3 separate regions of the Homo sapiens genome follow, and regions 1 and 3 are each linked to region 2. Evidence: fine-mapped expression QTL. A gene starts in region 2. Each other region holds a variant in brackets. All regions are shown on one strand. Distances are from middle to middle. Region 1 overlaps TRAM2 (translocation associated membrane protein 2). Region 2 holds the start of TRAM2 (translocation associated membrane protein 2). Region 3 overlaps TRAM2 (translocation associated membrane protein 2).

Region 1 (8,000 bases), 76 kb after region 2:
ACTGCCCGCTTACCTGCAGGTGGTGCCCTCCCGTTATTTTTTTCTGGAACATCTGATTTTAGATATCTCGTCCCTCAAGCACTTTCCCCAGCCACCCTTGAATCCTCTTCCCACTCGGGGTCTCTTCTGGAGAAGTGGGTGAAGATTCCTTCAAGGGCGCTAAAGACTGACATCCCTCTTCTGCCTCTGTGAGCAGGTTCAGTGCCTGGGCTGCTGTTTTTGGGGTTACCCGCCTCTTCATCCTCACCCTTGCCGTGCTGGCCATTGGCTTTGGACTGGCTCGCATGGAAAACCAGGCATTTGATCCCGAGAAAGGGAACTTCAACACTTTGTTTTGCAGGTGAGTCGAGCAGAAGTCCAAGGTGATAAGCCAGGGAGCCTCCTGAACTTGGCACAGCCCTTGCAGAAGGTCTGGAGGCAGCAGACCCTTTAGTCTCCCACATATTGTTATTTTTTGGAAATCTCTGGATATCAGGCCTGAGGGGAGAAGAGATAGCAGCCTCTGGTTCCATCCAAACCATCTTCATCCCCTAGTCCTGGTTTGCTCAGACTGTAGTCCAAATAGGAATCCCTTACATTTGTCTGGCACTTTGTGGTGCACAGAGGCATCACACCCAGTCTCTCAGTTGATATCATTCTCCTCTTCTTGTGTGTGGGTGCTTTAAAACCATGTGCTTAATGGCTTGGCCAGTGGCCTCCTGTGGCAGTGAGGAAGCCACTATTTTCCGGAGCCCCTAGGCCCAGGAGAGTGATTTGTCCAGGGTTGCTCCACTTTTAAGTGACATGTTAAATGAGAAGCCACTCTTCCAGAAATTCAGTTCATTTGAATGCTACCAATATTTGTGGAGCTTACATTAGTCTTGTTCTGTGCAATGGGCGCAAAACAGACACAGCCATGGACCCCTCCCTCGTCATAGGAGTAGCGTGATTGTAGAGCTGGCCGTACGTCTGTCGCCACTTCCTTCCCGTCTCCCTGGCACATGTGATGTATGCTGGAGCAGAGACTGACTGAAGCACACATTCTTCCTGGTGATAGTGGTGGTATCGAAGAGGGCCAGTGGTGAAGGCGGACGTGATAAGCCATGGGAACTGCAGGGCCCCTGGCCCTTGTTCTCCCCTGCACAACCCAGCCCAAGGCTGTGAGCCCAAGCCCCAGCCTAAGCCCCTAACCCCCTGCTCTGCAGGCTCTGCGTGCTGCTGCTGGTGTGTGCCGCCCAGGCCTGGCTCATGTGGCGCTTCATCCACTCCCAGCTGCGGCACTGGCGGGAATACTGGAATGAGCAGAGTGCAAAGCGGAGAGTCCCAGCCACACCCAGACTACCAGCCAGGCTCATCAAGAGGGAATCTGGTGAGTGCCAGGGCCCTTGGCAGAGAGTGGAGCCAGGGAAGTCTGTCTGGGATGGGTGGGAGGAGCCAAGGCACCTGGCTTCTTGGGCGCTGCCCAGACCAATCCTGCCAGCTTCTCCTTCCTGACTCTTACCTCAGGGCTGGGGCTCCTAGCTCCCTGATTGGCACGTGGCTGGGTGTGGGCCAGGGACAGGCTGTGGGTGGGGCTGGCCCTAACTAGGCTGGGAGCCCTGGCCACCACGGGGCAGGGCAGTGGCTGGGTGGGGAACTCTGGCAGGAAGCGTGTCCTCAGGGTGGCTTCTGGACCCCAGCCAAGTGCTGCTACTGCCGCCGCCGCCCATTCTCAGTGCCGGACGGCGGCCTCTGTCCTCACCTGCCCTTTTGCTCCACATCTTAGCCTGCCCCTGCCTCCCAGCTTGCTGGCTCCTCCTCTGTCTCCAAGAATGACTCACAGTGACATAGTGCTAGGTGGGGGGTAGGGGTGGGACACTTATCCTTTGGCCCGTGCACGCACTCCAGTCATCACCCACCTTCAGCAGGTCCTCAGGCCCTGCCAGCCCTGCACGTTCTGCCCAGCCTGGGGGCCTGTCTGCACTGGGCGCTGCTTTCTGACTCACCTGCTTTTCTCTAGGTGGCCACCTGCTTGGCAAAGGCTTATGTGTGTTTGAACCAGACACGCGCGCAGCTGGGTGTGTCACAGAGTCAGGCCTGGCTGGCGGGGGAGGTATGGGGCATAAGACTGCAGCCAGTACCTCTGAATTTGAGCAAGCGCACGGAGGTATTTTGAACAATAGAGCACAATTTTTCTGCCAGAGGAGTGTCAGGCATCCTGCTTGAGGCCTTGTTCCTACAGCCTCTTGTCCCCCTCCCTTCTGTGGCCACTGCTCCTGGGAGTTCTTGCTGAACTGGAAGTGGGCTGATGCCTTGCAGGGGCCTGAGAAGAACTGAGGACAGTGAGCAGTGACAGCATCTAAGTGATTTCGGCGAGTATCTAGCCCCAGCCTCAGGCTTGGGCAGGCTGGCCTCTGTTGTTGCTGAGTTACTGTGTGTCATCCCAGGCCCCTCCTGCTAAAGTGCAGTCAGAGACCAAGCCTCTCAAACAGGGCCACTAGTCCAGGGCCCTGGGGAAGACAGGACCCTCCTGGGAGCCGTCTGCTGGCTTGCATTTGCTGTGCAAGGCTGCAGCCTGGCGCCCCTTTGGTGCATCCATGTATAGCAGCTGGGCTGCCCGGGCCCCTTCCTTGGCCTGGCCCCACCCTCCCCTCTTCTGCCTTAGCTCCAGCAGAAACACCATGTATGCTTGTCTCTCTCCACTTCCCAGGTTACCATGAAAATGGAGTGGTGAAGGCAGAGAACGGAACCTCCCCACGGACTAAGAAACTCAAGTCTCCCTAAGGCCAAAGTGCTAAGAACAGGAATCCTCTTGGTGGGGGCCGAGCAGGGGGCAAGGAGCCCAGGCCCCCTCCCTGCCTCCTCCTTCCTGCCTGTGATGCTCCGTCTCAAACAGCCGAAACCTGTCTTGCAATGGGGGGAGGGGGCGTTTCGCTTTCCTTCTTCTTGGCTTCCTCTTATTCTTCCACAAACCATTCTCAATAAAGCCAAAAATCTTTCTCTTTCTCCCCCTCAGGCCACCTCCTGTCCTCACTCCTGTCCTGTGCTGGCTTTTCTGGAACGCCAGGCGCCCATGGCTGGCACCTTTCTGCTTGCTCTGTCTCTTGCCTTATGGCTGCTGCTTTTCCTTTTTACTTCCTATTTTCACCTTATCTTGCAATTTTTCTGTCTGATTTTTACAATGGGAGGGGAGCTAAGATTGCAGTCCTGTCCTTCGGTCCCCCAGGGCCTGCCGGTCAGAAGCCTGGGGCTGGTAGGCCCTTGGTGGTCCTCATGTGGATGGGCAAGAAGAGAGCGGCCATCTCGGATCATAATCTCCTTGGTGCTGATTAACTGACGAGATATATGATTCCAGTTCTGCATGTACCATCTTGAGGCACAGCAGCCACTGCTCGTTGTAAATGCCAAGGCATTTGGCTTTGGGACGTGACAACTCAATCCAGAAGGATGGTGTGAACTCGGTTGGGTCCCGTGACTCGAGCTCCTACCAGTGGCTGGCCGCGGATTGGAAGCCAGCCTGCTGTCGCTCTGTGGGGGGGGACACGTCTTCCCACTGCTTAGAGCGAGAGCAGAGCAAACTGCGCAGCAGGCACCTCCAGAAAGGTAATGGTGGCAGAACCCACAGTGGAGTCGACCTAGGCCTTTCTCCAGCAGTCCCAGT[C/T]GCCATTGCTTTTTCAGCCATTCACAAGCATTCAAAACCAAACCAAACAGCAGTTCATATACCTGCCTGAGATAGGCTGGTCCTCACCTCCAGAGCCAGCCAGCCCCGTCAGGGGCCAAACTTACTACCTTGACTTCATCTCTAGCTGCAGAAACACTAAGTCTCAAGGGCTTCAGCCCCATGCTGGTCCCTTGGTGTTCAGGGAGGGTCACTTGGACCGCTGTTCATCTGGCCGCCCTTGTTGAGTGTTCTTTGGAATTGTCGTTTTTTGAGCACAACTACAGCATTTTAGACTGCATGAAACCATGACTGACTGAGAGTCACTCTCTGGGTAGATGATAGGCGCCTTTCTGGCCCCTTCCCTCACAGATTCTTTCCCCTCCCCTCCACCTGAAGAGAAGGCCTCCAAGTCCTTTTGGTGCCTTGTGAGGACTTTTAGAAGGGGCGTTCAGCTTTAAAAAGCCGGTCCTAATTACGGCCGGACGCAGTAGCTTACGCCTGTTATCCCAGCACTTTGGGAGGTCGAGGTGGGCAGATCACCTGAGGTTAGGAGTTCAAGACCAGCCTGGCCAACATGGTGAAACCCCATCTCTACTAAAAATACAAAAAATTAGGTGTAGTGGCAGGCACCTGTAATCCCAGCTACTCGGGAGGCTGAGGCAGGAGAATCGCTTGAACCTAGAAGGCGGAGGTTGCAGTGAGCGGAGATTGTACCATGGCACTCCAGCCTGGACAACAAGAGCGAAATTCTGTCTAAAAAAACAAAAGTCCCAATTAAGAACCTCCGAACTCTGTTTTGAGGCAAAGGGGAGTAGTTCTTGGTAGGTGCAGGAATAGTAGTGTCATTTGGAATACTGGTCATCTTTCTGACATCACAGTAGAAACCAAACCTTGGATTTAGATTCAAAAGGGGGGAAATGGGTCTTTTCATCAAGGCAACTCCCCTTCTCCAAGTCACTTACATCATAGATAAATTTTAGCTTCCCAGTAACTGAGGGATTTGTTTCCTAACGCCATTGGAGGCCTTCATCCCTCTCTACGATAAGGTTGCAGAAATGGGAAGAGCTACCCGTGGTTGCTTTTGATTACCCTTAGGAAGTGAGACAGTGTTTTTGAAAATATGTATTTCCCCCATTTCTCCCTCTCCTTCCCTGACACTTCTCTGGGCTGCACAGCAGAAACGTTGGTAAAAGGGCAGTTTGGTTTCAACACAGCAGACCTGATATGGGATCCCTTAGCCACTTTAGTCAAACAGCCCTGACAGAGTCTATAATTGAGTTCAGGCCCCCCACCTTGCCTAATAACTGCAAATCGCATGTTCAGCCAGCAGCCTCCTAAGCCCACCTTCCTCCCCCATTAGAGAACACCCATCCTAGGTGCTCTCCAGGCTGTGTCATTGGCAGGGCTTCACATGCAGGAGGCCTCTCTCAGGTGAGTCCAGGTTAAACTGTTGAGTTGTGGCTTCAACAGATATGTATGGCATGCTGGGATGTGCCAGGTGCCTGCGTTGTGCCAGTTGCTGGAGAGGTAGTGTGAGCAGAGCAGCTGAAATCTTGCCATCAAGCAACCCTCATTCTCATGCCTGTAGGTTTCCATTGCTCTGTCCCAGGACACTTGCGTGCCAGAGACGCCACAACTTCATGTCCCTGTCTCTTGCAAGCTCCCCGTGCTGCCAGTACTTCATGCCTTGGATGTGGTCCCACCAGCCCAGTGGCCGGGGTCAGCTTAGGCTCTGCTTCCCAGTGGACGGGTGTGCTAAGGGTTTATTTTATGTAAAAAAAAAAAAAAAAACAAAAAAAAACCCTGAGACCATGAGTGGGGCTGGCATCTTGCCAGCCTGGGCTTCAGGGATGTTTGGGGGGGGTGGTTAGAGGGTAGTTGTAGGGTACTTTGTCACCCCCCTCCCCCTGCCACCCTCCCTGGCACGTTTATTTCACAGCAGAGCCAAGTCTGTGGCAGGTTGACACAGACTGTGTTGCCAGAGCTGAAATAATTCCACTTCATCCTATGAGCGTGTTGGGCTAGCTTGTTCTAATTTTGGCCACTTTGGCTGTTTTCTTCAGTTTTATGCATTCTCTCCTGCCCCAAAGTGCCAAGCCATTTGTGAAGGCTCTGCCAGACACCTCCAAGCTTGAGAGCTCAGCACCATGCACCAAGAGCAGGAGAAAAGACGTAAACCTACCCCAGCAACTGTGGCCTCTCGACAGCCCTGGCTAACTAACTTACATTTGTGGGGAAGCCAACAGACACAGCAGGAGGAGAGGGAGGTGGCGCTGGTGGACCAAGGATCTGTGCTACCCGCTCCCCTCCTTGGAGGTGCAGTGATGATGGGAGTTATTTTTACCATCCGGGCGCTGATAGCTGCACTATTAATAAATTGCATGTGTTCCTTTTGAAGGTAGGGGATGGTTCTGGGTGAGAGGGGAGCAGGCTGAGCCGGCGGGGGATCTGCTGTCCTCCCTTTTGAGTCAGTTCTAATCCCATGTGTGTCTGGGCCACCAGACCGAAATGGTTGCTGAGAAACTTGTCTGTTCATGTCCCAAGGCATAACTTCCCAACATTTAAGAAACCCCAATAGACACCTCTGCCCTGGCCACGTTCACAGATCCTTCTCTTGACCGGAAACCCTGGGACCCTAAGAACCCCTGAAGCTTGGGGTGGGTGTGTGCTTCTGGGGTCTCTTTTGGGACCTCCTTTGTCAGTACCCCTTCTTTTTTCTAAGCAGCTAATAAGAGGTTGGGTGAAAGAGTGCATCTCCTCCCAGGATTCCACAACAAAATTCTTATCTTCCATGGATGCTTTAATTGGAAGTGGGTTGCCGACCCCCTTGTGCCTAGAAAAGGCCTTCGCTTGGGTTTCCTTTGTATGCTTCAGCCTTCCTAGTTGGTTTTTCTAGGCCTGGTGTGAGAGGTAGGGAAGTCTGCACATAACTAATTCTTTTGCTTAAGGGCCTATGGCACAAGTGCACAAACTTCAATTCTTGATGTTCTAAGCTCTCTCCTCTAACAGAGGGAGTGCTGAAAGCTTTTGAGTCAAGACAATGGAGTGCTCTTCCTCCCTCACTCTGCCTTCCGAGCTTATGGTTCCTTTTCTCAGGAGAGGATTTTCAGGATTATTGGAGGATTAGGTCATTGTCAGATGACTGGAAAACCTAAATAGGATCTCTCTCCAGCTCAAGGTTGTCCCAGTGAGGAAGACTTTACCAACTTCTCACTCTACCCCACTACTCACATGAGTGTTAGCTCCACCTTGCAAAGGCTGAAGACCAGTTCTCCCCAGTGAAAGCTGCCTCATTCTTTTATGGAGTTCCCTGGAGTGGCAGAGCTATAAAGACGAGCATTGGGATTTGCAGTCTCCATGTAGCCTTTCGTGCTTGGCAACCCCTGTAGACTTTTTGTCCCAAGCAGATTGCGTGCGTGCGCCTGTGTGTGAGAATAAGTGCCTTACTTTGCTGTGTGGTTTTCAACTTGTACTCCGTGGCCAGCCCCCAGTTGCCAGGGCTCGACGGCAGCCAAGGACACCATACCTCAGTATAGTTATATATAAAAGGGACACGGATTGTGACAGTTTCACCCCATTTGTTTCTAACCCCGCTGCCCAGGATTAGGGTCTGTGGTGTGTTCTGTTTTGTTTTTGGTTTCTCCCTTGTGTCAGTTCTCTTCTGGCCCAGCTGGGTGGCTGTGGAAGTCTGTGAGGTGGCCCAACCACAAGCATACCTATTAAGAGAAGCCCAGAGCTTCCAGCCCCCACTTCGAAAACTCTCCTCTGGCCCCACATAGCAAACTCCTTCTCCGTTATTTTCCCCACCCCCAGATTTTTTTTAAAAGGCCCACTTGCCGTAACCTCTTTTGGTCTATTTTGCTTCCCATTCAGCCCAAAGTTTATATGATAAAGGTGTTTACTTTTACTTCCCAGTCTCCAAGTGCTAACACATAAACACATACATGTCTGACTGTTGCAGAACTGTTCGAGCTCCTAATTCAGTGTTACCTTGTTTTAGTCGCAGCAACCCTCTCCCCTACCCCTTGCCCGCCCACGTTTTTCTCACTCTTCCGGGTTGTGCAATAACTCTCCCAGCCAGTGGTCCTTTCCACAGCCTTTCTGTCCCTTAAAACACCTGCAACTGGGGGAGAAATGGGACCCATGGGAGGGGGAGTCGTCATCCCTTACACAAGAAATAGCCACTTTCCTTTTGTTGTCATTCTTGTGATCCTGGGTGGGTTTCTGTGGCACTCTTTTAGAACATGTAGCATCATCTTAGAGGTCTATTTTTAAAAAATGTGTTGAAGAGGAAAAAACCATTCTCACGATGGGGCTTAAGTCATTGTCCAGGAATAAGATTGGCGTGGTGCCCATGACATCACCGTCACTCTGCCTAAAA
Region 2 (8,000 bases):
GGGGTTGTTATTTCCTCCACATCCAGATGGAACTGTATTCACCCATTTTTAGGTCCCTGATCCATCTCAGGAGAGTTTTCCCTTTTGTTCCTATTGCTGGAGCCACCCTCTAGCCTCCTCCTCAGTTTCATCACTGATCTCCCGTAGCTCAAGTATTTTCAGTATTTCCCTCTCTCCTGGGTTTTTCCTCTCTGTCTCCAAATATGCTCCAATCTCAAAAATTAAATATAATTTAAAGGTCCTTCCTTAGATCTTCCATAGCCCTCAAAACACCATCCATTTCTCTTTTTCTCACAAAACATTTTTTTACAAACAGACGTTTTTACCCACCTCCTTTTCTCAACTTCTACCTACTGTTAAGCCCACTCTAATGTTCAATTAAGTGGTCTCTAAAAGCCACGATGGCTGAATCTGGGAGTTTCATCTCATTCTTGTTCTGCCTGATTCAACCTGTCCTTAACGAAATTCTTATGTCGTGGCTTCCTCTACGCCACGCTTTCCTTTTCCTCATCTTCCCCCATTCCGAGTGTCGGGGTTCACTAGGATTCTGCTGACCTCAGACTTTTTCTCATTCTCTCAGAACACTTATATAACCTGATGACCTCAACAGTCCTACTGAAGATGAACTGAAAATACTTTAGTTGTGATTTTCCCTCCCCAAGTCCAATCCAACAGTTTCCAACTGAGCTGTCAAAGTGTTCCATGGCTCCTCAACCTCAGCTTGTTCAAAGCAGAGGCCATCTTCTTCTCCTCCCTTAAACATGCTCTTTATCTGTTATTCCAAATAAATTTTTTAATGGTCCCACCATCATTTATGTTATCCCAGATGCAAGTTCTGACTCATTCAACTCCCTTTTATTCTTACTGCTACTGTTCTTTGAGGAGTGCTAGCCAGACGCAGTGGATCATGCCTATAATCCTAGTACTTTGGGAGGTAGAGGCAGGAGGATCACTTGAGCCTAGGAGTTCGAGACCAGTCTGGGCAACAGAGGGAGACCCTGTCTCTACAAAAAATAGAAATAAATTAGCCAGGCATGGTGGTGTGTGCTTGTAGTCGCAGCTACTCGGAAGCTGAGGCAAGAAGATCACTTAAGCCCAGGAGGTTGGGGCTGCAGTGAGCTGTGATTGCACCATTGCATTCCAGCCTGGGTGACAGAGACCCTGTCTCAAAAAGAAGAGAGAAGTGTCCATTTCTTTACTGGACTGTTATAATAGTTTCCAAAGTGGTCTTCCTGTTTAAATCAGGATGGTCTTCCATACTCCTGATAGTTCTCCTCTAAAGACAGATCTGGTCATGCTTAAAAGCTTTCCATTTCTTGCCAGGCACAGTGGCTCACGCCTGTAATCCCAGAACTTTGGGAGGCTGAGGTGGGTGGATCACCTGAAGTTGGGAGTTCAAGACAAGCCTGACCAACATGGAGAAACCCTGTCTCTACTAAAAATACAAAATTAGTTGGGCATGGTGGCACATGCCTGTAATCCCAGCTACTTGGGAGACTGAGGCAGGAGAATCTCTTGAACCCGGGAGGTGGAGGTTGCAGTGAGCTGAGATGGTGCCATTGCACTCCAGCCTGGGCAACAAGAGGGAAACTCCATCTCAAAAACAAATAAACAAAAAACACCAACTTTCCATTCCTTCCCATTGTTTGCAGAATAAAGTCACAATTCTTTATCACAGCATACAAAACCTGCCACAATCCAGTTCTATCTTAACTCTCCAAATTCATCTATCACTCCTTTTCTGCATTCTCTGTCAGTACCATTTGTCAGGTAAAGGCCCAGCCCAAATGACCTCCTCCCTTACACCCCAGAGAGAATTAGGTTACCTTTTCCTTGTACTCAGAGTGTGCATATTTCAGGTTGTTCTTAGAGTCACCATCATCACACTGAATTGTAATGATGTCTCAGTCAATTCTAAAAGATTGTAAGCTTTAGCAGTGTGTATTAGCTATCTCTTGCTGTATAACAAATTACAATAAAATTTAGTGGTTTAAAACAGCAAATATTTATTCTCTCCCAGGTGCAGTGGGTCAGGAATTCAGGAGTGGCTTACCTGGCTAGTTCTGGCTCAGGGTCTCTCATGAGGTTGTAGTCAAGAGATTAGCAGGGGCTGATGTCATCTGAAGGCTTAACTGGGGCTGGAAAATCTGCTTCCAAGGTGGCACACTCATGTCTGGCAAGTCAGTGATGGTTGTTCGCAGGAGGTCTCAGCCATATGGAGGATATGCCTCCACAGGACTATGAGTATCCTCACAAAGTGGCAGCTGGTTTCCTCCAGAGGGAGTGACCTGAGAGAAAGAAAGCAGAAACCCTCAAATGCCTCTTCTGGCCTAGTCTTGGAAGTCACATACCATCACTTATGCTACCTTCTATTTATTAGGAGTGAGCCACTAAGTCCAGCCCACACTCAAGGTGGGGGAACGAATTGCCTCTTTTTGAAGGAAGGAATGTTGAAAAACTGGAGGACATATACCCATATGCCACGTAATGATATTCAGGTCAAACAACATATAAAACAGTTGTTTCATAAGATCTTAATGGAGCTGAAAATTTCCTATCACATAGTGATGTCGTAGCCACTGTAACATTGTAGCGCAATGCATTAACCACGTGTTTCTGGTGATGCTGGTGTAAACAAACCTACTGTGCTGCCCCATAATATAGTTTAGTATAAATGTGTAGCAAAAGGCTGGGTGCAGTGGCCTGTAATCTCAGCACTTTGGGAGGCCAAGACGGGTGGATCACTGAAGATCAGGAGTTCAACACTAGCCTGGCCAACATGGTGAAACCCTGTCTCTACTAAAAATACAAAAATTAGCAGGGGGTGGAGGGCACCTGTAATCTCAGCTACTCAGGAGGCTGAGGCAGGAGAATTGCTTGAACCTGGAAGGAGGAGGTTCCAGTGAGCCGAGATGGCGTCACTGCACTCCAGCTTGGGCAACAGAGAATCCGTCTCAAAAAATGGCGGATCACTTGCGGTCAGGAGTTCGAGACCAGCCTGGTCAACATGGTGAAACCCCCACCTCTACTAAAAAATACGAAAATTAGCCAGGTGTGGTGGCACATACCTGTAGTTCCAGCTACAGGCTGAAGCATGAGAATTGCTTGAAGCCAGGAGGCAGAGGTTGCAGTGAGTCCAGATCTCGCCACTGCACTCCTGCCTGGGCAACAGAGTTAAGACTCTGTCTCAAAATAATAATAATAGCAGTGGGGGTAACTTAAATTCAACCATCTAAACCTATAAAGAAACCAATTGTATAAAGTTCAACCTCATAGGTGTGGCCGCACGTTGCAAATTTGAACACATCTTCACAGGTGGAAAGTCGAGGTGCTTCAGAGTTCTTGATCTTTCTGTTCCTCACAAGACGAAGGTTCAACTTTGAGAAAGGTCAGCCTTGAAGTTAAATGAGGTTTAGTCCAATCTAGGCATTACTTTGTCATTTCCTTGAGAGTCAGATAAGGGAATTACAGACCCAAGACTGTATTTTAAGTAAGGTGGAGTGCAGATTGAGGAAGTAAAATTTCTCTAGGAACTCCATCCTGTCTCAATTACATTCCACCGCGTGCCACTTTTAAAAAACCATATTTATTTAGAAGTGAAATAACTGTGGACCTAATAAAAAATGGAATAGGAATTAGTTTTTTTTGTTCATTACGTATTTCTGCACATCTAGAAAGTAACTGACTGCTTCATTACTGGTAGGATTAAATCCAATATTTGCGAATATAATTTATTAAGAACACCTTTTGTCCTTCCAGGAGTACTTTTAAGACTTAATATTAAATAGAAACTTTCAGTGAGAAAGTTCCTTCCTTTTTTGCTTCTTCTGTGTTTATTCTTCCACTTCTTCTGATTAATATGTAAGGTAGACTTTCGGTGAAATGTGTGTAGCTAATTAATGGTGGCATGAGGGTCCCAAAAATTACTGGGCAAAACTGCAATCATCCACCCTCTCCCCGCATTGGAGCGAAAGCTCCCCTAGGGCAGGGTCTTTCGGTTTGTTGATCTACCTGAACTGTGCCTAGCCCACTGCAAGTTCTCGATAAATACTTGAGTAATCTCCATTCACTGATCGTCCGTGCAGGGCGCTGTGGCCAGCCAGAAGGCCGGTTCGCGGCTTCCCTGCTTCCGCCGCACCCGCGCCGCCCTCAGCCCCCGGGGCCACAGCCCGCAACCCCGGGAGCATCCGGCTGCCCGGCCACCCCCGGGGCGCTCGCTGCCTCCGGGGCCTGCCCTTCCCGCGGAGGAAGGAGCGGAGCGAGGAGTGGGAAAGCTGGGCCCACTTCCTGTCCGGGCAGGCCTGGGCGCCCGCCTCCTCCGCGGCCTGCTTTCTCCACCGCGAGCGGCTGAGCCTCGGGCCCCGAGAATGCGGCCGGGCGCGGCGCTGGCGCGGGACGAGGAGGAGCCGAGCCCCGCTCGCCGCCCCCGTACGCCTCCGCCCCGGTAGCCCGCGCGTGCCCAGCGGCTAGAGGGTTAAGCCCGCGGGGGGCGGGGCCAGGCGCGCCGAGTGCGGGCCGCGGGCTGGGCGGGGGCTGGGCGGGGGCTGCGGCCGGGGGCGGTTACGGGCGGCCGGGGGCGGGCGGAGGAAGGGGGCGGGCCCCGAAGTTGTTCCGCGCTGGGCGGGCGAGCGGCTGTGGGAGAGCGGGCGGCGGGCCGGCGGGCGGACCGGGCCGGTGCTGGAGAAGTTTGCGCTGCGGTTCGTGAGCGCAGGGTGCGGGCCCCGCCGGCCGCTGCGCGCCCGCTGCCATGGCTTTCCGCAGGAGGACGAAAAGTTACCCGCTCTTCAGCCAGGAGTTCGTCATCCACAACCATGCGGACATCGGCTTCTGCCTGGTGCTCTGCGTCCTCATCGGGCTTATGTTCGAGGTGAGAGCCTGGGGAGGAGGGAGCTGGAGGGACAGTGCCCCCTGTCGTGCACCGCCCGGCACACCCCTGCAGGTCAGCGGGCCCTCCTCTGATCGGAGGCTCCTGGCTGCCGTGTACGTTATCTGCACCCCGGCTTTGTGCACTGTACCCCTCCGGCCTGTACCCCGGCCAGCCCAGACAGCACCCCCAGCTCCGCGCCGTGCCAGCCATGCCATGCTCTGCCGCCCCCTTGGGCACTCATCGTATCCTGCAGCTCTGTCTGCAGCCCTGAAACCCCAGCCTGGCCTCGAACCAACCGCCGCGCTGCCACCATGGCTTGACGCGTGGGGTTCCCTTTCTGGCGTCCAGGAGCCAAGCCCAGAGACTCCCAGACCCGCAGTCATTGCACAACCCCCTCTTGCCCCAAGGGGTGGCCACTAGCTCTTCTGGGCTTTTCCAGTGGGAGAGACCCAGAACCTTTTCCACTTCCTATGTGATTTTCTGGGTGTTTTGCATCTCAGCTCTGGAACGTGCTCGGATGTTCACGTGTGGCCCTGGCCCCATCCCAGCAGTGGCCTTCTGCTCTCGTCTCGCTCCCACTTTTTTGCTGTGCTCTAGAAGGCCAATTTTTGGATATCCTTTACCACTCCGTGAACTGTCCCTTTAGATCCATCTGCGGCGACCCAGAGCTTCACCCCCTTTACAGAGACAAGAAGAGAGACAGGGATACCCTCCACTTTTTGGGGAAAGTTGATTCTCTTATAGTGTAGGAGTGGGGGGCAGAGGATGGGGATCCCACCCCCAACAGCAATGTCCTGGTGTCGGCCTCCCAGGCAGGGAGTTGTAGAAAGCCAGCAAGGGGTCAGAATTCACAAGACTGATGGGAAGGATTCCCTACTCTTGCAGAGCAAGAAAAATGTGATATTCAAAAGTGGGAAGAACTGGAGGAAGCTTGGCATGGGTTTGTTGCGGTATATCTTGTCTCAGAAGTGAGATATGTGAGCGACATTCCCCTCACTCTCACCGTGGTCTCCTCTGGTTCCTGAGACTCCTTGTCCTCCCTTCTGCGTCAGCTTGCTTATTGCATTCTCACGGTTGGGTTAGGAAGCTGTGATCATTTACAAACTTCCTTGGAGATGGAGGATGGCTTGCCTGGCTAAATTTCCTTCCCTGTCCCTCTGTCTCGGGTTCCCTGTATCTCTACGAATGACAAGGGCCCTAATTGGCTGGCGAAGCTGCCCTCAAGCTGGGAACGTTCTTGTGGTGGCCAAGTCAGGGTTGGATGAATGAATGTGTCCGTGGCTGAGCTTTAGGGTCTGTAGGAAATAAACGGTGGTGCTAGGACTGGGGTCTCCACTCCACTTTTTGATAGTGCTCCTTTAGTTCAGTCCCTCTCTCCTTCCTCTCCCTCTCACAGCTCTCTCTAGTGGTATATTGGGTCGGGCTTGCTCCACCTTGTTCTGGGTTCTCCCCTGGAAGTGTGTGGTGTCACACAGAGTCATATCCGTGTGTCTCAGTCCCTGTTCTGTGACTAGTCTGACTGAAAACTGACTGCAGCCTCAGTTTCCCCATCATTAAAGACGTTCATAAAACTGGTCTTCGTCACAGGGTGGTTGTAAGGTTTAACTGAGATCATATCAGCAACAAAAGCCATAACATCTCCTACCAACATGAAAAAGTCTCTTGCGCCTGGAGCCCTGTGATTATTTATCATAATAATAGCTTAACAAAATAACAGAATTTCCTTTGCCCAGCGCATTCTCTGCTGTCTGTTTGCTGTCCTCCATTCTAAGAGGCCTCCAAGTGCGTGTCCCCAGCCTTGGAGGGTGTGGCTGGAAAGATACACGTGACAGCTGTAAACCTCAAAGCCACAGGCTGCAGCGACGAAGTTTCTCGCATAGCCTGTGGCTCTCTCCGTCATATTTCTAGCATTTGTTAGGGTTTGTGGCCCTCCCTGTTTTATCTTTGCTCAGAAAGGGCTGCCAGCATTTGAGTTTGGTACCTACCTCCTTCCCTGGGTCTCTAGTCTTATGGAAAGTCCTGTGCATTAAACCTGCCACTCTAAAAGTTGAAAGGTGTTAAGAGCTGTTACTTCCAGTATCTGGTGAAAGAGAAAGGCCCAAGACGAGAAAAACAACAAACAAAACTACTCTTCCTCCCCCTTAGGCTTGTATTGGGGAGTGTAGCAAGGCCCCTGGTTGAAATGCCTACAGGCCCCCTTTTCCTGCCAAGCCCATCACTTCTTCCCATAGCACCTTGAACCTACAGGACCTACAGGGCAGGTGTCTCCTTCTTTTGGAGGTACTTTGTGAGATCATCAGTCTGTGCTTCTCTGGGAGAAAGAGGGCTTTGCCCTAAGCCTCCAGTAAGAAGGTCTTGTGTTCTTCTGTGCTGGGCACATGGTGGGGGCCTCACTGTCTTTACCCACCGACTAACTAACTCTCCACAGAGATAAGTATTCCTGGGGGTGGGGAGGGGGAGTTTGGAACTGCTGCCTCTATCAAATGAGAGCAGAAGCGTCCTGGATACTGTAGGTACCACAGAGAAACAAATGTGGGCATCTTCACACTCAGAGTAAAGCCTGGGGAGACGCCTCATAACCAAGCACAGGACTGGCTGGATATCACTTAGGATCTTCTGGGTTTCTCTCTGGAAGTGTGTGGTGTGCATGTGTGGGTATGTAGGGATGCATATGGTGCGATGGTAGGTGCAACTGGGGACTCACCACCCTTTTCCTAGAAGTGACGGCAGGAAGAGGTGCAAGGGGAATGGGAGAAAGGGGTGAGAGGACATAGGCTTTTGGGGTTCTGACTTGGCCCTGGCTAGGATTCCTTCATTCGGAAGCTGAGCCAGGAAAACTCAATTATAATTCTTCCCACAAAGAGCGACTCTCTTGGCCATTCCTCCTTCTGGGGACCTCTGTCGTGCCTCTGCCAATGGGCTGGGTCCCTCTCCCCCATCAGCCCACGCGCCAGGCAGCCACAGCCCTTGTGTCTGCATTGCATCCCTGCGTTGCTCTTTCCCCCACTCACTGGTCACCTCTTCTGCATTCAGGGGGCTTCTGTTTCCCCGTTAGGGACCCCAGGGCTTTAGTTCTCTGTCCCCAGGGAGATGATGACTCTAAATTCTTTCCCTTGGGATAATTTCCTTTTGG
Region 3 (6,281 bases), 28 kb after region 2:
TAGTGGGAGGGGAGGAAGGGGTTTTGAGTCTTGAGGCTGAGGATCCAGTTAGAAGTCTCTCCTACAGGCTGGTGGCAAATGAGAATATGAAGCTCTTAGCAGCATTGGGAGTAGAAATGATGGATTTAATAAAATAGTAAAGGAAAAAGCCAACAAGGGGCTATAAGGAAAGGTGGGGAGTCTTTGACTGCAGCCTGGGACATAGGCAAGTATAGAGCTTTCTCCTGGGCACCAGGTTTGGCATGTTGAACGGGAGTTAATCATGCACTATGTAGGTAAAGATGCAGCCTCCCACCTCCCATCCTGGGGAGAAAGATTTCAGCAGGAAAAGTAGATCTGAGTGTCGCCGGAATAGAAGTGGCTGCTACAGCAGAGATTTCCAAGAAAGCAAGAAGAGCTGAGGCTTGCACTGGGAGCCTGGAAGTGAAGCCGTGTCACAGAAGCATGGGGAAGAATCCGTGGATACAAAGGGACTTCAGAGAACACCCTTAAAACATGAGAACTCTGAGGCCCAGTGAGGTGGATGGGAGCAGCTGGAAGCAGCCCGTCGGGTTTGTGGCTGAGCTGTCAGGGAACAGGTCTCTTGCCTCCTCACTGCACTTTTCTCCCTTCTGCTTCCTCTTAGTAATATATGTACAGCCATTTGAGCTTTACCTATTTGCATGGGCTTCAGTAGAGCTGCAGGTGGCCTTCCTAGCAGGTGTGGCCACCAAGTACCCAACAGATTTCAGTCTGTTCTTGTCTTCGTTGCCTCCTCGGGGTAGTGAAAGGGCTGGGGAGCCTGTTGGTCCTGTCCCAGGGCTGTCCTCTCTGCATCCGTGCCCCCTGGGCTTTGCATGGGGGAGGAGCCTGGAATCTCGCTCTCTTTAAGGCTGGAAGCCAGGATGGCTGCCTGAGACTGCTGGCTATCTGTGCCCTCTCCTCTTGCCAGGGCTCAGTCTGGGGCAGAATGTGGCCCAGGGCCTGCTTGTCAGCACGTGGCTAGGGTTTCCGTGTTAACGTTCCCAAATTGGGATCTCAGAAGATCAAGTGTCCGTGTTGTCTGATCACGCTGAGCCTTCTCGAGCGGCCAGCTGCAAACCTTTCAAAGGGCTGTGTGTAATTGGCTTGGGAGATGCTGTGGGGGACTGAGAAGGGGACAAAGAAGTCAGTTTTTAAAAGGAAAAAAATAAATGAACATAACAGTCTTGGGCCAGTTGGGTGGGGCATGGTGCTTGGGCACATTGAAACCCCTTCCTCTTCCCTTCCTATTTTTCCACTTCCAGAGGCCCCTTTGGCTAGCGCCGTACTGACCCCTGCAGACCCCCTCTGTGTAAATACAGCCTCTGTCTCCCACCCACTTCTTCATTATGCATTCCTTTAATCTGACCCATCTCCAGGTTGCCAGCTGGCAGAGACTCAGCAGATTCCAAACCCCAGCTGGTGCCAGAGTGTTTACACGGGCCAGGGAAGCTTGGCAGACAACCTGCCCCCAAGCTACTCAGCTGTAGGAAAAGGTAGAAAGACTCCTGGAGATAAGTGGCCCGTTTGTTTGCAGACTTTCTCTCCTCCCTCATTCACCCTCCCCTGCATGCCCACCCTCACTCCAGTTGCTGCTCTATCCTGAAAACGTTAGAAAGAATCCCTTTGTGAAAGGGAGGTAAATGGCTAGGGACTAGCAGCGTAATCCCTACATCCAAGCAACCCTGTGTGGCACTCTGAGCACATAAAGGTAAAAGATCCTTTGCCTTCCGGGCTGAAACAGATCAGATATTAATTAGGAGACATTATTGGTTAGTGTAGAGCCAGTCCCCATTCATAACGGATATGTTTTTCCAAAATAATAAAGCTATGTGATCGAGTGTTCATGAAGCCAGGACTCATATTTGTCACTGCAGCCTGAGGCCAGTGGTGTCCTCAAAATCCTATATTCACCTCCTCCTGCCTCAGTAAAGGCCCCCTTGAAAAACTCAGGCAGGAAACTGTTCGTCCACCACAGTGGTTTATCTTGATCTGAGTTTGTGAGAAGCCAGTCCCAGGGTGTCATGCCTAAAGAAAACCATTTCTGAAGTGGGTTATCAACACTGTTGGTCCTTTGGAAATTAGATGGCCCATAAAGAGTGGCGATTTGTCTGCCTCCCATGCGTTTCATGAGGGGTAGTACCAGGATGTGTGTGGAGGATAATTTTGCTGGTTTAAAGTGTCCTATTCGGTTGGGCATGGTGGCACACTCCTGTAATCCCAGCACTTTGGGAGGCCAAGGCAGGTGGGAGGCCAAGGCAGGTGGATCTCTTGAGGCCAGGAGTTCAAGAACAGCCTGGCCAACATGATGAAACCCCATCTCTACTAAAAGTACAAAAATTAGCCGGGTGTGGTGGTGCATTCCTGTAATCCTAGCTATTCGGGAGGCTGAGGCAGGAGAATCACGTGAGCCTGGGAGGCAGAGGCTGCAGTGAACTAAGATCTTGCCACTGCACTCCAGTCTGGATGACGGGAGTGAAACCCTGTCGCAAAAAAAATAAAAATAAAAAATAAAAATAGTGTCCCATTGCCAGCAGTTACGTTGATGAGGTTAATTATTATCATATGGTGTTAGTATTCTTTTATTTGAGTAGCATATCTCCATCAGTCAGAGTCCCAACAGGAAACAGGTGGGGTAATTGAGGAATGGTTATGTAGGCACTATTAACAAGGGCGTGGACTGGCTCAGGGGAAACAGATAAGGAACAGTAAAGCATTCTAAGGCTTGCGAACGTGGGGAGCTATCCCTAAGCTTGAAGGGGCTGAGGATAGCATGGATCTAGAACTAAGAAGGAAGGGAGAGAGGAAATACCATTGAGAGCTGTGGTTGAAGGGGAGGGGCTGGAGTTTTGGTGGAGGGTTGCAGTGACTGCCAGAACTGTCCAGCAGGAAAGGAGCCAGGTGATGAATACCCCTTTCATGCTCTCTCATGTTCTGCAGATTCCATCGGAAGCCCACTGAAGTACTCCATAAAGGTGAAGCTGTCTGTTCTGGGACACAGGGTAGGATGGAGCATTGTGCAGCCCAGTAGAACTTACAGATGCTATTCTGCCTTCTGTTTGACTCCTACCTCATATATGACAACAGGCAATCAAAGGGTGGCAAAGCTAAACTGATGTCCCTGAAATACTACCATCTCTGAGAATAGGACTTTTGGACAGACGTTTCCTGATTGTAATAAGCCAAATAGTGCAACACATCTAACTTTAAGCTACTCTTGCCCTGATTTCTGGTGAGATTTAGAATCACCATTGCTTCTTAAAGTGATGGCGCATTAAATGCTTCCACTTCCATCTTTTGGCTGGTTCAGATAATACTCAAGCACCACTTAAACCCATTTCCTTCTCTTGCCCCAGTGATTTGCACCCTAGCCCTCAGGGACCAAGAGGAGTTTCTGGTGCAGCATAAATGGAATTCTAATCACCGTGTCTAATTACTACTAGTCTTTGAGTATCTGTATCCAACAGGAAATGGCTTTCTTGACTGTTTCACATGCAGGAGCTTGGACTCCCGTATTTGTTAGGTAACTGATGAAATTTAATTGTTTAATTATGAAATATGAGATGGTTTTTTAGAGTTTTGTGGCTGAAGAGACTTTCAAATTTTATGTTACGATGTTGCCTCCTTTATACTTTGAGGGAGACAATCATTTCTTTATCTTGGCTTGAATCATTGTGGGAAGCAAAGCTTTGAAATGCGCACCATGCTGGAATAGATGGTATCCCCACTGATGAACTCAGGAGACAGACAGTTGATTTTGGGCAGCTTTTGGAAGGAAGGGAGGGAGGGAGGGAAGGAGGGAAGGGAGGGAAGGAGGGAAGGAAGGGAAGGAAAGCTTTAAGGGGTCTGAGGGCCAGATATCGTTTCTTCCATTTTAGACTAGTTCATTTGAAACAAATGGGCACAGCTGAGATCTGAAGTTGGACCACACGGTGGACAGCCCCCGTAAAGCCGTTATGACTATCCTAAGCTAAACCATTGTATCTCTAGGCCTTCTCCAGTCCTTTCTCAGTGCCATCATGATTCTGTTCTAACCCTCACCTGCCCCCTTTTATCCACTTTCTGTACATGTTTCTGGCTCAAATCACCGCCTCGCAGAAATCTTCTCAGAGAAGGTCCAGAAATCTCCAAACCCAGGGCACTAACAGATGTTTTTTGGGTCTCTCCTTTGTGCCAAGAACACTGTGGGTATGGAGATAAATAAAGACATGGTCTTTGCCCTGGAGAAAGCAAAGGAGCTTCCACTTGCCCTTTGCCTAACGCTGTCCTGATCTATGACATCTCTTGTCTTAAAATGAACCCTTTATGCATCAAGGTCTCATTTTGATCATTAGATCTTAGGCACATCGTTCAGGTAGCATGGTGATTAACAGTCCAGATGTCA[C/T]GGTCAGATGGATCTTGGATTCTAGTCCCGCTTCTGGGGCTTATTAACTGTGTGCCTTGGGGCGTGTTGCTTAAGCTTTTTGGGCCTCACTTTTCTGCACATTAGGGCCTCTGGGAGCATTAAGTGAGATCATTTCTGTAAGTGTTCAGAGCAGTTCCTGGCAGGTGATAGAAGTTCAGTGAATAGTAGTAATGTAGCAGTTCCTTATAGAGTTGGAGGTTAGATGAGGTAATCCTGTTTGGCGTTTAGCACAGTGCCTGGCATTTCATAAGATCTCACACGTTAGATGTCATTGTCGCTCCTTGCAGGGTTGCTGAGGATTATTTGATGTGATTGTGTAAAATGCCTTTACCTTGCCTGGCTTGCAGTAAATATTCAAAGAAGAGTGGTTGGTTTTATCGTCTTCGTGATAATGGAGTTGGAGTAGATAGATGTATAGCCTGACTCTGGATTCTGGTCCTGAGCCTTTGAGAGAAGGAAGCGGGTCTCGTAATTGCTTTCATCTCCAGTAGCATTGTGCCTTGCCCAGAGCATGTGCTCAATATTTTGTGATTGAAGAATTGATTTTTAAAAATGTTTATATTTTGTTTTGTAGGGACAGTGCTAAACAAAGACATATTACTAGGGTGTGAAAGTGCCTTACCAGCCAGCTTTGTGCACATGAACATAAGCACACAAACACACCATACTTCTAATGCTTTCCATGACATATCTGTTTAGAAAACCCTGTGTGGCCATTGTCAGATCTGGAATTGCCCCATGGTTATGGCAGCAGTCACTGTGGCTGTAGAGTGTGAATATGGATCCTGGCCCATGGCCAGGTGCTTATCTGCATATCTGTGGGTTCTGATTCTGAACTCTGTCAGTCCAGCCGACGCAATAAAGGCTGACAGGCTGAGAGGAGACCGGAGGCCTCCCGTGGCCCTCCACCCCTTTGGCACCCTGACAGTTCTCCCCCTGGGAACGTGCAGAACAGTCATCCCTTGTAAATCCATCTAGGTGGCCCTGCCTGTCCCTCTAGAGAAATGAATGAAAGTAAAGTCACAGCTGCTGAGAGTGGCAGTGTAGCATCGGTTCAAAAGAATTGATTAAATAGCAGAAAATTTCCCAGCCCCTTTGCGAATATAGTGGAGGAAGGATGTTCATTTTGTTTTTGCCTCTCTCCCCTCTAGCTCCTCTGAAAGTACATTAATTCATGGGGTGTTTATTGAGCGTCTTCTCCATAGCTGGTGTGTGTATCAAGACAAGGTGTCCGAACTGCACAAGCAGCAGGGGTCTTGGGGAACTGAGAAAGGGCGTGGTCTTAACAAAAGCTGCCCAGGCCCAGTGCACCCTCTTGGGCATCCCTCTCTGCAGCACTGGATCTCAGTTCCTGAAGAAATACCCGTTGGATTGGTGTAATTCCCAGGAGATCATCCTCTCTAGGCCCCCTTGTTTTTCTGCATGTCCAACCACATTTCTCTCCATGGTCCTTCTTGTCACCACACGTGGTCTAAGCTTCTCCCGCACCTCCCTGACTGTCCACTCCTCTCTAGCTCCCGAGCTCTTTGCTTTCCTTCAGAGTTGAGCTGCTAGACCGAGCAGTCCACACTTCTGTCTCCACACTCCCACTCCATGCTCACCCATACACACCAGCTCTGCCCCTCCTTTCCTCCAGCTTTGGCAGCATTTACCAGTGACCTCTGGTTTACAAATCTGATGGACACTTCACACATTCATTACATAAATATTTATTAATCCCCACTATGTGCCAAGCGCTGTTGTAGGCACTTGGGACCCATCAGAAAACAAAACAAAAACCTGGTCACGGGCTGCTCACATTTCAGTCCTGAGTTGACTGGTCCTCCCTGGGGCATCTGCAGGTGTGCAGCTGACTCCTTACAATGGTCTCCTGCCT

What was found.
Region 1: its variant is fine-mapped to the expression of TRAM2 in whole blood (TOPMed, PIP above 0.99). The same link has a PIP of 0.9 or more in T cells, blood mononuclear cells and testis.
Region 3: its variant is fine-mapped to the expression of TRAM2 in nasal epithelium (TOPMed, PIP above 0.99).

The regions. Positions count from the first base shown.
Region 1 is chr6:52,497,939-52,505,938 of GRCh38, reverse strand. TRAM2 (translocation associated membrane protein 2) reads left to right here. Exons shown (of 11, transcript NM_012288.4): 9 at 197-340; 10 at 1,185-1,348; 11 at 2,669-8,000. The coding sequence ends at 2,742. Among named protein-coding and RNA genes, the nearest start is that of TRAM2, 75 kb to the left of the region's middle. RefSeq lists enhancers at 974-2,173, 6,791-6,840 and a silencer at 7,924-8,000. The variant C/T (reference allele first, on the strand shown) is at 3,620.
Region 2 is chr6:52,573,663-52,581,662 of GRCh38, reverse strand. TRAM2 (translocation associated membrane protein 2) reads left to right here and starts at 4,603. Exons shown (of 11, transcript NM_012288.4): 1 at 4,603-4,867. The coding sequence starts at 4,748. It overlaps TRAM2-AS1 (TRAM2 antisense RNA 1), which reads right to left and starts at 4,461. Exons shown (of 3, transcript NR_103446.1): 1 at 3,270-4,461; 2 at 2,054-2,288. RefSeq lists silencers at 4,031-4,890, 6,748-6,797 and enhancers at 7,148-7,197, 7,799-8,000.
Region 3 is chr6:52,546,778-52,553,058 of GRCh38, reverse strand. The region is part of intron 1 of TRAM2 (translocation associated membrane protein 2); the gene reads left to right. Among named protein-coding and RNA genes, the nearest start is that of TRAM2, 27 kb to the left of the region's middle. RefSeq lists an enhancer at 673-842. The variant C/T (reference allele first, on the strand shown) is at 4,385.